Homo sapiens: one gene and its partners. Changing the gene in region 2 together with the main gene of any one other region gives a genetic interaction. Each region holds a gene or a part of one and is shown on either strand. Other genes may lie near its edges.

Region 1 (3,650 bases), on a different chromosome or scaffold from region 2:
TGATTTAGTGCTGACTATACACAATTTGCAAATTCAAATGGCCCAATTCCTGGCAGGGTGAATATGGATGATAAGCAGCTAATTCTGGTCAGTATAACCATATATTTAACTACCATGACCTTCTGCTTGGAAGAAAAAAATGTCTTCCATGGAAGTAAAATGTTAGTGACACACATACCTCCATTCTTGTTGCCTCCCCTCCTTTCACAATCGGCACTGTTTTTCCAGCATGTATTCTATATTGCCCAATTGAATGTCCATTTAGATTACGGATTGGTTTCACTGTTATAAAAAATAGGGAAATAAAAGTCATTCAGGATCTCAAGAAGCAAAAACAGATCTCTTACATTTTGGTACAGAGTTCAAGCATTTATTCAAAAACCAGGTATGGCTTTACTAAATAACCTTACATTAAGGTAGTTTAATATAAACTGGAATCTAGTGGAATATAAAAAGTAGTTGCAGTGTTATTAATACTAGAAGTAGGCCAGGTGCAGTGGCTCATGCCTGTAATCCCAGCACTCTGGGAGGCCGAGGCAAGCGGATCACCTGAGGTCAGGAGTTCGAGACCAGCCTGACCAACATGGCGAAACCCTGTCTCTACTACAAATACAAAAATTCGCTGGGTGTGGTGGTGGGGGCCTGTAATTCCAGCTACTCAGGAGGCTGAGGCAGGAGAATCACTTGAACCCGGGAAGCGGAGGTTGCCGTGAGCCAAGATCACATCACTGCACTTCAGCCTGGGCGAAAGCAACTCCGTCTCAAAAAAAAAAAAAAAAAAAAAAAACGGTGCTAGAAGGGAGGATGGAAGAAAGAAATACAGGATTAAGGGCACAAGGGAGGTCATCTAAGGAGGTATAAGGAGGTACTGTTAACAACAAATAAAATGCCATGTACACAAATTATTAGAAACATAAAAAATACATATTTGTATTGTTACAGACCAAAAGATAATGTGAAAGATACTGTTAATATGACAGTATTATAAAACTTTATATCAACATTTCAAATGTTCAAAAAGAAAACCTATGTGGCTGAGACACAGTAATTAAGAAATAGAAGTAAGAAAGAAGAAAGAAAATCTAAACATCCCACTGTCATGACAGCAAGGACAGAATAGACAAATTGTGGCATATTCACGAGGGAATAACATTCAACAATCAAAACAAAAAGCTAGGAATACATTTAACAACTGGAATAAAACGTCTAGCTTTTTTATTCCAGTTGTTTTAAAACTGACAAAATGAGCAGAAAAAGGCACAATTACATATATACTGTACAATTCCACATATATATAATAGTTCAAAATTAGGCAATAAAACTAGTTTAGGGATGCATAATTAGGTAGTAAAGACATAAAGAAAAGCAAATGAAAATCCTTTCATACTTGCAGTGCTGATAAGCTAAATATATTTTAAAATTCAGACATCATTACTATTTCTCTAAGACCTGGCAAACTGACCCCACAAGCCAAGATGGTGGCTCACTAGAGGCAGGCTGCTGTAATTGGAAAGCAGTGTATTGCTGCTATGGTTTGAATGTATCCCCCAAAGGTCATGTATTGGGAATTTCATCCCCAGTGTGATGGTGTTGGGAGGTGGGACCTAACAGGAGGAGTTTGGGCCATGGAGGCACCACTCTCATCAATGAATTCAAGCCATTATCTCAGGAGTGGGTTCCCTGTAAAGGACAAGTTTGACCATTTCTTGCTCTCTCTCTCAAACTTCTCATTGCCCTTCTGCCTAATGCCATAGGATGATGCAGCAAGAAGACCTTCACCAGATGCCAGTCCCTCAATCTTCCCAGCCTCCAACACTGTGAGAAATCAATTTCTGTTCTTTATAAATTACCTAGTCTCAGGTATTCTGCTGTAGCAGCACAAAACGGACTAAGAAAATGAGACTGAGCGTCTTCTGGAATACTGGCAATATTCAATTTCTTGAGGAGTGAGGTTACGTAGCTTCTGCAATTGAGAAGCTGAGTTTTTATGCTTTGTGCATTTTGTGTTAATATTTCAAATTTTAAAAAAGGGCTAAAAACGGCCAGGTGCAGTGGCTCACGCCTGTAATCCCAACACTCTGGGAGGCCAAGGCAGGTGGATGACTTGAGGTCAGGAGTTCAAGACCAGTCTGGCCAACACAGTGAAACCCCATCTCTACTAAAAATATAAAAATTAGCTGGGCGTGGTGACACACCTGTAGTCCCAGCTATTTGGGAGGCTGAGGCAGGAGAGTCACTTGAACCCGGGAGGCAGAGACTGCAGTGAAATGAAACTGCACCACTGTACTCCAGTCTGGGCGACAGAGTCTCAAAAAAAAAAAAAAAAAAAGGTTGGGGGGGAGGTCTTAAAAAAATTTAACTCTATAACTCTAGAATCCTCAGTATGAGCTACCTTTCTTCTAGAGCAGAGTTAAGTAGTCTGAAGCAATGAACAAGTATGTTACAAACTTAGTGGGACAGCAAGAAAAACAAATCAATTCACTCTTCACAACAACCTTCTTATATAAATGTGTCAAAGTTGTCAGACTCAAACAGAGCTAGGGAAAGCCATGAAGAGAGGGTTCTCATGCTTATACACCTGATAATGAAAATGACTATGAAAACCATAACCTTGCACAAAGCCCACTGCAACCTTACACAAAAAAATACTTCTGCAAGGACATCTGCCCAACAACTGCCTGCCCAACCTCCGACTGGCGTCACTTTTGTTATTAATCTTTGGAGCCAAGGATAATTATTTCAAAACAATTATGTCATCCTCATTTTCGTCTTCAAAAACCTCTGTCTTCCTTACCTCCCTGAATATGCACAAGTTTACTATGGCATTCCCACTGCAATGCTCTATTCCCAAACATCATTTTCTTTTAGAGAGCCTCTGTTTGTTATTTAGGTTGACAAGTAACAAGCTTATTTTAAAATTCAAACTTTGCAGACTGACCCTTACAAGCCAATCAATTTTTTTAAAGAAAGTTTCTTAGCCATACCAACCTAATATGTTAGTTACACAGAAAAATGAGGGTACAGGGGAATTCATTTTTTACTTATGCAGGTTGTAACAGCACAGGCTAATTCTGGGACCAGTAATTTGTTAACAATCACTTTTTAATTCTATTGCTTCCTGATCAAAGGAGATTAAGATACTCCTTTGATGGCCCGTTTGTGCTATGTGTTTTGATTTGTTCTGGAAAGTTCAACCCGGAATCCATTTCTTCATCTCCCTATTATCATGATTTTTCCACATCCTCTCTGCTTAAACTATAAAAATGGATTGTTGCCTTAAACTAAGAACACTGATCAATAAAATAACAGGGATCAAAAGAGGGGTACTGAAATAATGAAACCAAAAATGCTGCACTAGCTTAATGGAAGAGGTAAAAGGGTAGATATTAAAAATCCCGATGTTGCAGGCTGGAATTATTATGCAGTGACTAAAACATTAAGTCAAACTGTCACCTACCATACCTTGAAAGGCAGACCACATACCAAACAAGTTGTAGAATTAGGAGAAAATGAAAGGAAAAAGAGAAGACATTGGTATATGTTGGCTAGTGTTGGAATTTACAAAAATTTCAGCAAATTCTCAAAAAAGAGAAATAACTAACTCTAGAGGTAGTCCCCCAAGCAGACTGCTACAGTGTGTACTCCAAGTT
Region 2 (3,650 bases):
GCTCCAGCAGTAAACAAAACACAAACCTGCCCTCATGGGTTTATATTCTCATTGTGGGAGAAAGACAGTAAACATAACAAGTAACTTATTGCATGAAGGGTGTATTAGTCCGTTCTCACATTGCTATAAGGAAATACCCAAGACTGGGTAATTTACAAAGGAAAGAGGTTTAAGTGACTCACAGTTCTGCATGGCTGGGAAGGCCTCAGGAAACTTACAATCATGGCAGAAGGGAAAGGGGAGGCAGGCACCTTCTTCACAAGGCAGCAGGAGAGAGAAGTGCTGAGCAAAGCACGAAGAGCCCCTTATAAAACCATCAGATCCTGTGAGAACTCTTCACTATCATGAGAACAGCATGGGGGAAACCACCCCCATGTCAGTTACCCCCACCTGGTCTCTCCCTGGACACCTGGGGATTATGGGGATTACAATTCGAGATGAGATTTGGGTGGGGATACAAAGCCTCACCATATCAAAGGGTGATACATGCTATGAGGGAAAATAAAGCAGGGAGTGGAGGAAGCTAAGTGGAAGATTCTGCCATCTTGGATAAAGTAGCATTGGAGCAAAGATGGAAGGGGTCAGGAGGGGAAGTGAGGCGGGAGTTTGCAGGAGGGCATACCCCTCCCTGGGGAGCCTTGGGTGCAAAGGCCGGGAGGTGGCCATGTGCCTGGCATGTGTGAGGAGCAAAGGGGAGGCCGGTGTGGCCTATATGATGCAAATGTGGAGGTCAGAGGTATGGTAGGGGATGGGGCGGTGGCTCGTACCTGTAATCCCAGCACTTTGGGGGGCCAAGGCGGGAGGACACTTGAGCCCAGGAGACCAGCCTCTGCAACATAGCGAGACCCCATCTCTACAAAAAAATTGTTTTTTTAAGTTAGGAATGATGACACGCACCTGTAGTCTCAGCTACTTGGGAGACTGAGGTGGGAGGATCACTTGAGCCCAGAAGGTTAAAGCTACAGTAAGCCGTGATCACACCACTGCACTCCACCCTGGGTGACAGAGCGAGACTCTGTCTCAAAAAAATAAAACCCTATGTGGTAGGAGACAAGGGAGGCCAGCCACAGGGTATAAGGTGGCAGTTCAGCCTACTTACATGTTAGAATCACCTGATAGACTTTAAAAACTACCAAACAGCAGCCAGGCACAGTGGCTCATGCCTGTAATCCCAGCACTTTGAGAGGCTGAGACAGGAAGATTGCTTGAACCCAGGAGGTGGGGGCTGCAGTGAGCTGTGTTTGCAACACTGCACTCCAGCCTGGGTGACAGAGCAACACCCTCTCAAGAAAAAACAGTGCCCAGGCCTCACCCACTGAGGTTCTACTTTAACTGGCCTAAGTTGCAGGCTGGGCATCAGAATGGTTAACAGATCCCTCTGGAATGAGGCCTCTTAGGCCATACTCATCAGCTTGACACTCCTAATGGGGCGGGGTGCATATGAGTAAAGCCTGGGCTCAGGCCTGGCCCTCAGGAAGCATTCAGTGGGCTGGTGAGGGATGTGTTTTCTCCAATGGTCTAATCTGAGCTCTTTGTGGCTTCCCAGGCAGCAAAGCACCTGCTCTGAGTGGCCATGGGGAAGCGATACTTCTGTGACTACTGCGACCGCTCCTTCCAGGACAACCTCCACAACCGCAAGAAGCACCTGAACGGGCTGCAGCACCTCAAGGCCAAGAAGGTCTGGTACGACATGTTCCGAGGTGGGTGCCGCTGGCTGGGGGCCAGGCTCCTGGAGCCCTGCTCTCTGATCTTTCTTATCATCAAAGACTCCTGTGGGTCAGTGACAGTCTAGGTCTGGGCTCTTTGAGGATCAAAAGAGAGGGAGGCCTGAGCCACTGGGCCCTCAGAGGAGCAGGCTGGTAGGTGAGCTCTTTCCCCAACAACGCTGACTGAAGGCTCTGTGGACAGGAGGAAGGCCCTAGAAGGAGGTGATGTTTGAGCCAACAGCTAAAATAGGGGAAAGCTAGCCATGCAGTTCTGGGTGGAGGGTGTGAAGAGAAGCAGGCAGCCCTGAGTCCAGCACCAGGGCTCTCGGAGCAGGAGGGAGAGGGTGTGGCTGGGCGGAGCAGGCCAGGGGAGAATGGTAGGGCTCAAGCTGGCTCTGGGGCAGGGATCTTCCAAGCCTGTGGAGGCCATCATAAGCAGGGGGCGGAGGTGGGGGGGTCCCTGTTCCAAGGGCAGAGAGCAGCCTTTGAAGGGCTTTAGCTGCCGTGGCCAGACCTGCCTTGACAGCGCAGACTGCTTCGTGGGGAGCAGTTGGGTGCGGTCAGTGGCAGTTGAATGACTGGCTGCAGGCACGGGTGAATAACCCAGTTGCAGAAGGAAGGCAGGCTCTTCTGGGAAAGGCCTCTCAGAGCAAGAACAATTGGGGTGAATGAGCTAAGGTCGGAAGTGCCTAGCACAGGGCCTGTTTCCCGGGAGGTGCCCAGAGAGGGGAGTTGTGCTGTTGCACGGCTGTCACTGGACATTCACACTGAGGAACAGCCAGGGAGGTTCCAGAGGGTGACTGGCAGGAGCCAGGTTGAGAGATATGGGCACTTGGCGGTGGGGCGAGGGTGGGCCAGGAGCTCCTGGAATGAGCCAGAGTGGGGCCGATGCCCTGTAGGTTGGTGAGCAGGATTCTGGGACAGGGCCTCCGAAGAAGGAACCAAATCCAGCAGCCAAGAAGGGAGGAGAGGTGGAGAGAGAGTTCCCTGGTTGGGGCTAGGTGTGGTGGCTTTCCCCTGTAATCCTAGCACTTTGGGACACTGAGGTGGGAAGATTGTTTGAGCCCAGAAGTTCAAGAGCAGCCTGGGCAGCATTGTGAGACCCCGCCTCAAAAAAGGCCTGAAACTGAGAGTTCACAAACAAGGAATGAGCATGGATCGCATGCCTGCTACATGCTGGTGCTTTTCATAGTTCGTCATTTGCTTTTCTCGACAACTCTCTAGGGCAGTGATTCTCAACTCCGGCTGCAGGTTAGGATCACCTGGAGACCTTTAGGCTAAAACCACTGATTCCCCAACCCCATCCCCTCCCCAGAGGCAGGTTTGGGGACTAGGCATGGTGTTTCTAAAGGCTTCCCAGACTCCGCATTTCACTTGAGGGAGCTGAGGCTCAGAGGTTCAAGTGAGGGGGTGGCCAGGCTGCTCAGCAGGCCAGGCGTGGCTGTGGTTGCAAGGCCACAGGAAAATTCATGGGCAGTGGGGTCTCCTAGCTCCCTAGGAGACTCTAACCCTGGTGTTACGCTAAGGCTCCCTGCTGTGCAAATCCAGTGTGGGCTGTGATCTAGAGGGAGCTGGGCCGAGATCACCTAGTCCCAGATTCTCAGCTGTCAACAGCTGGATGCTGGGATCCAGGGCTGATTGGCAGAGGTCCCTGTGTCACTTATAGAAAAGATGAAGCAGCAGGTGACAGGAGTGCCCCAGGGCTCCTGTGTTCTCAGTGTCCTCACATCCCCAACACATTCAGTCCTTAGAACAGTTCTGTAAGAGGCTGGGCAGGCCAAGCCAGGCATTCCCAGTTACAGGTGGTGACTTCAAAATCCAGAGCAGGCAGGGCATGGTGGCTCACACCTGTAATCCCAGCACTTTGGGAGGCTGAGGTGGGAGGATCGCTTGAGTCCAGGAGTTCAAGACCAGCCTGGGCAACATAGTGAAACCCCATCTCTA
Region 3 (3,650 bases), on a different chromosome or scaffold from region 2:
TGTGAGTTGTGGGATATTCTGTTGCTGGGGAATCAAATCTAGACTGTAGTAGCTAAGTGGCTTTTTTGTTGTTTTTAAATTTTACTTATTGAAGGGGTGGCCTGCCCCTCCACACCTGTGGGTATTTCTAGTCGGGTGGGATGAGAGACGGAGAAAAGAAATAAGACACAGAGACAAAGTATAAAGAAACAACGGTGGGTCCAGGGGACTGGTGCTCAGCACACCAAGGACCTGCACCGGCACCGGCCTCTGAGTTCCCTCAGTTTTTATTGATTATTATTTTTCATTATTTCAGCAAAAAGGAATGTAGTAGGACAGCAGGGTGATAATAAGGAGAAGGTCAACAAATTACATGTGAGCAAAAGAATGTATATCACGATTAAGTTCAAGGGAAAGTACTATGCCTGGACGTGCACGTAGGCCAGACTTATGTTTCTCTCCACCCAAACATCTCAGTGGAGTAAAGACTACAAGGCAGTATCACTGTAAACATGTCTCGCCTCCCGCCACAGGGCAGCTTTTCTCCCATCTCAGAGTTGAACAAATGTACAATCGGGTTTTAAGCCGAGACATTCAGTTCCCAGGGGCAAGCAGGAGATAGTGGCCTTCCTCCATCTCACCTGCAAGAGGCTTTCCTCTTTTACTAATCCACCTCAGCACAGACCCTTTACAGGTGTCGGGCTGGGAGACAGTCAGGTCTTTCTCATCCCACGAGGCCATATTTCAGACTATCACATGGAGAGAAACCTTGGACAATACCCCGCTTTCAAGGGCAGAGGTCCCTGCGGCTTTCCACAGTGCATTGTGCCCCTGGTTTATTGAGACTAGAGAATGGCAATGACCTTTACCAGATGTACTGCTTGTAAGTATTTTGTTAACAAGGCACGTCCTACACAGCCCTAGGTCCCTTAAACCTTGATTTTATACAACACATGTTTTTGTGAGCTCCAAGTTGGGTCAAAGTGGCTGGGTCAAAGTGGCTGGGACAAAGCTACAAATCAACAACATCTCAGCAAAGCAACTGTTTAAAGTACAGGTCTTTTTCAAAATGGAGTCTCTTATGTCTTTCCTTCCTACATAGACACAGTGACAGTCTGATCTTTCTTTCTTTTCCCTACAACTTATTATTATTTTTGAGACAGAGTCTTGCTCTGTCACTGGCCTGGAGTGCAGTGGCCCGATCTCGGCTCACTGCAACCTCCACCTCCGAGGTTCAAGCAATTCTCGTCTCAGCCTCCCAAGTAGCTGGGATTACAGGCACCTGCCACCACATCTGGCTAATTTTTTGTGTTTTTGTAGAGACAGGGTTTCACTATGTTGGCCAGGCTGGTCTTGAACTCCTGGCCTCTTGATCCACCCGTCTCGGCCTCCCAAAGTGCTGGGATTACAGGCGTGGGCCACACCGCGCCTGGCTTAAATGATTTTTTAAAACTAAGTGGCTTAATATTCTGCAATTTTAATCTGAGAGGGGTGGAACAGAAAGCCCCATACCTCATCAGAACCTGGGAGTTGATGAGAAACCATTTGATGACAACCTCCTAGGGGAGATGGGGAGGGAAGTGGGAGATGGCCTCATAGCAGCTTCTGGCAGACCTTCCACCCTCGTGTTCCAGGAGGATTAAACAAGCCTTTCAGCCACAATTCGGTAAGGTGTGGCTCAAGCCATTGTCTCCTTGGATATATTCAAGGCTCTCAGGGAACACTGTTGATAGTGGTATTGGTATTATACTGAAACTTTGTGTTGAGAACCAGGGTTTTGAGAACCAGGGTTTTCACTATGGCAAAAGGAAGATACAAGTAAGGAATGGAGGCATTTGAATAGGGAGGTGACAGTACAAATTACTGATTTAAGGCCAGGCATAGTGGCTGATGCCTGTAATCCCAGTTCTTTGGGAGGCCAAGGCAGGAGAATTGCTTGAGCCCAGGAGTTCGAGACCAGCATGGGTGACATGGCAAAACCCTGTTTCTACAAAAAACACAAAAATTAGCCAGGCATAGTGGTGCTGTCCTGTAGTCCTACCTACTCAGGAAGCTAAGGCAGGAGGATCTCTTGAGCCTGGGAGCCTCTTGAGCAGAGGTTGCAGCGAGCTGAGGTTGTGCCACTGCACTCCAGCCTAGGCAACAGAGCGAGCCCGTCTCAAAAAAAAGACAAAGAAATTTAGGACAGTATGCAAGATTTGGCCTGGATTCTTCTGAGGATGTGAAGTAATGGAAACAGTAAGACTGTTCCAGACTAGGGGAAGACTAGAGACCTAATAGCTGGATTCCATGTGATCTTTTGTTGGACTTTGGGATTGGAGGTGAGAGTAGAGAAGGCATAATGCACGTTTTTGAGACGAGGGAAATGTGAATATAGCCTGTATGCCTACACTCAAGTCTGAAGACATGTAAACCATGTCTATACTAACCAGCCAAATATTTGAACACTAAAAGGAAGAATTTTCTTAATGTGGTAATGGTATCATGGTTGTATAGAATGTTCCTCCTCTTGGGAGATGTGTGTTGAAAATAGGGTTTGACGTCTAAACCTATTTTGTTTTGGCAAAAAGGACGTGTGTCTGTACAAAAGAAGTGGAGCCAGTATGGCAAAATGTTTACAAGGACTCTGGGTGAGAGGTACATAGGTGCTTACTATACTGTTTTGTTTCTGAATTTGGAATTTCTCAAAATTAAAAAAATATCTACTGAGGAGCTTTTCGTTTTAACTGGTGGGGAATGGGTTCTGGGTGGTTTTGCCCCTTTTCTTTTTAGATTCAAGAAATCCATGGTGAAAGGTTTGGATTCCTATGAAGAAAAGGAGGATAAAGTGATCAAGGAGGTAAGTTAAAGTAGCAGTCCCTCACCCTTTTTGCACCAGGGGCTGGTTTCGTGGAAGACGGTTTTTCCACAGATGGACCCAGGCAGGGGATGGTTTCAGAATGAGACTGCTCCACCTCAGATCATCAGGCACTAGATTCTCATAAGGAGCACGCAACCTAGATACCTTGCATGCCCAGTTCACAATAGTGTTTGTGCTCCTATGAGAATGTAACACCACCACTGATCTGACAGGAGCTCAGGCGGCAGTGCTGTTGCAGCCTGCTTCCTGACAGGCCACAGACCAGTACTGGTCCACGCCTGGGGGTGGAGGGCCCAAGTTAAAGGAAAGGCCTCTGAAGAAACTGGCCCCCATGATCCTGTACCTGTCTAAGCAGCCTCTCTCCCACAGATGGCAGCTCAGATCCGTGAGGTGGAGCAGAGCCGACAGGAGGTGGTTCGGTCTGTCTTAGAGGTTGGTTTCCCTCGGAGGATCCAGACCAGTATCCAAATCCACTGATCCCTGGCATTCCCAGGTCCAGCATTTCATGGACTAGTGCTTCTTCTTCTTCTTTTTTTTTTGGAGACAGAGTTTCGCTGTGTCACCCAGGCTGGAGTGCAGTGGCACGATCTCGGCTCACTGCAACCTCCACCTCCCAGGTTCAGGTTCAAGCGATTCTCCTGCCTCAGGCTCCCGAGTAGCTGGGATTACAGGTGCCGCCACCACGCCTGGCTAATTTTTATATTTTTAATAGAGGTGGTGTTTCACCATGTTGGCCAGGCTGGTCTTGAACTCCTGACCTCAGGTGATCCACCCGCCTCAGCCTGCTGGAATTACAAGCATGAGCCACTGT

Evidence for each region.
Region 1: changes in ZMAT5 (region 2) and METAP2 together harm fitness more than expected from each alone (negative genetic interaction), as found in Homo sapiens cells (one large-scale study listed by BioGRID).
Region 3: changes in ZMAT5 (region 2) and CENATAC together harm fitness more than expected from each alone (negative genetic interaction), as found in Homo sapiens cells (one large-scale study listed by BioGRID).

Annotation. Positions count from the first base shown.
Region 1 is NC_000012.12:95,508,527-95,512,176, reverse strand, and holds part of METAP2 (methionine aminopeptidase 2), read right to left. Parts: intron 283-3,650; coding exon 179-282; intron 1-178. UniProt on the Homo sapiens protein: Cotranslationally removes the N-terminal methionine from nascent proteins. The N-terminal methionine is often cleaved when the second residue in the primary sequence is small and uncharged (Met-Ala-, Cys, Gly, Pro, Ser, Thr, or Val).
Region 2 is NC_000022.11:29,746,468-29,750,117, reverse strand, and holds part of ZMAT5 (zinc finger matrin-type protein 5), read left to right. Parts: intron 1-1,546; 5' UTR 1,547-1,573; coding exon 1,574-1,700; intron 1,701-3,650.
Region 3 is NC_000011.10:119,008,013-119,011,662, forward strand, and holds part of CENATAC (centrosomal AT-AC splicing factor), read left to right. Parts: intron 1-2,751; coding exon 2,752-2,818; intron 2,819-3,208; coding exon 3,209-3,271; exon of another isoform or gene 3,272-3,299; intron 3,300-3,650. UniProt on the Homo sapiens protein: Component of the minor spliceosome that promotes splicing of a specific, rare minor intron subtype. Negative regulator of centrosome duplication.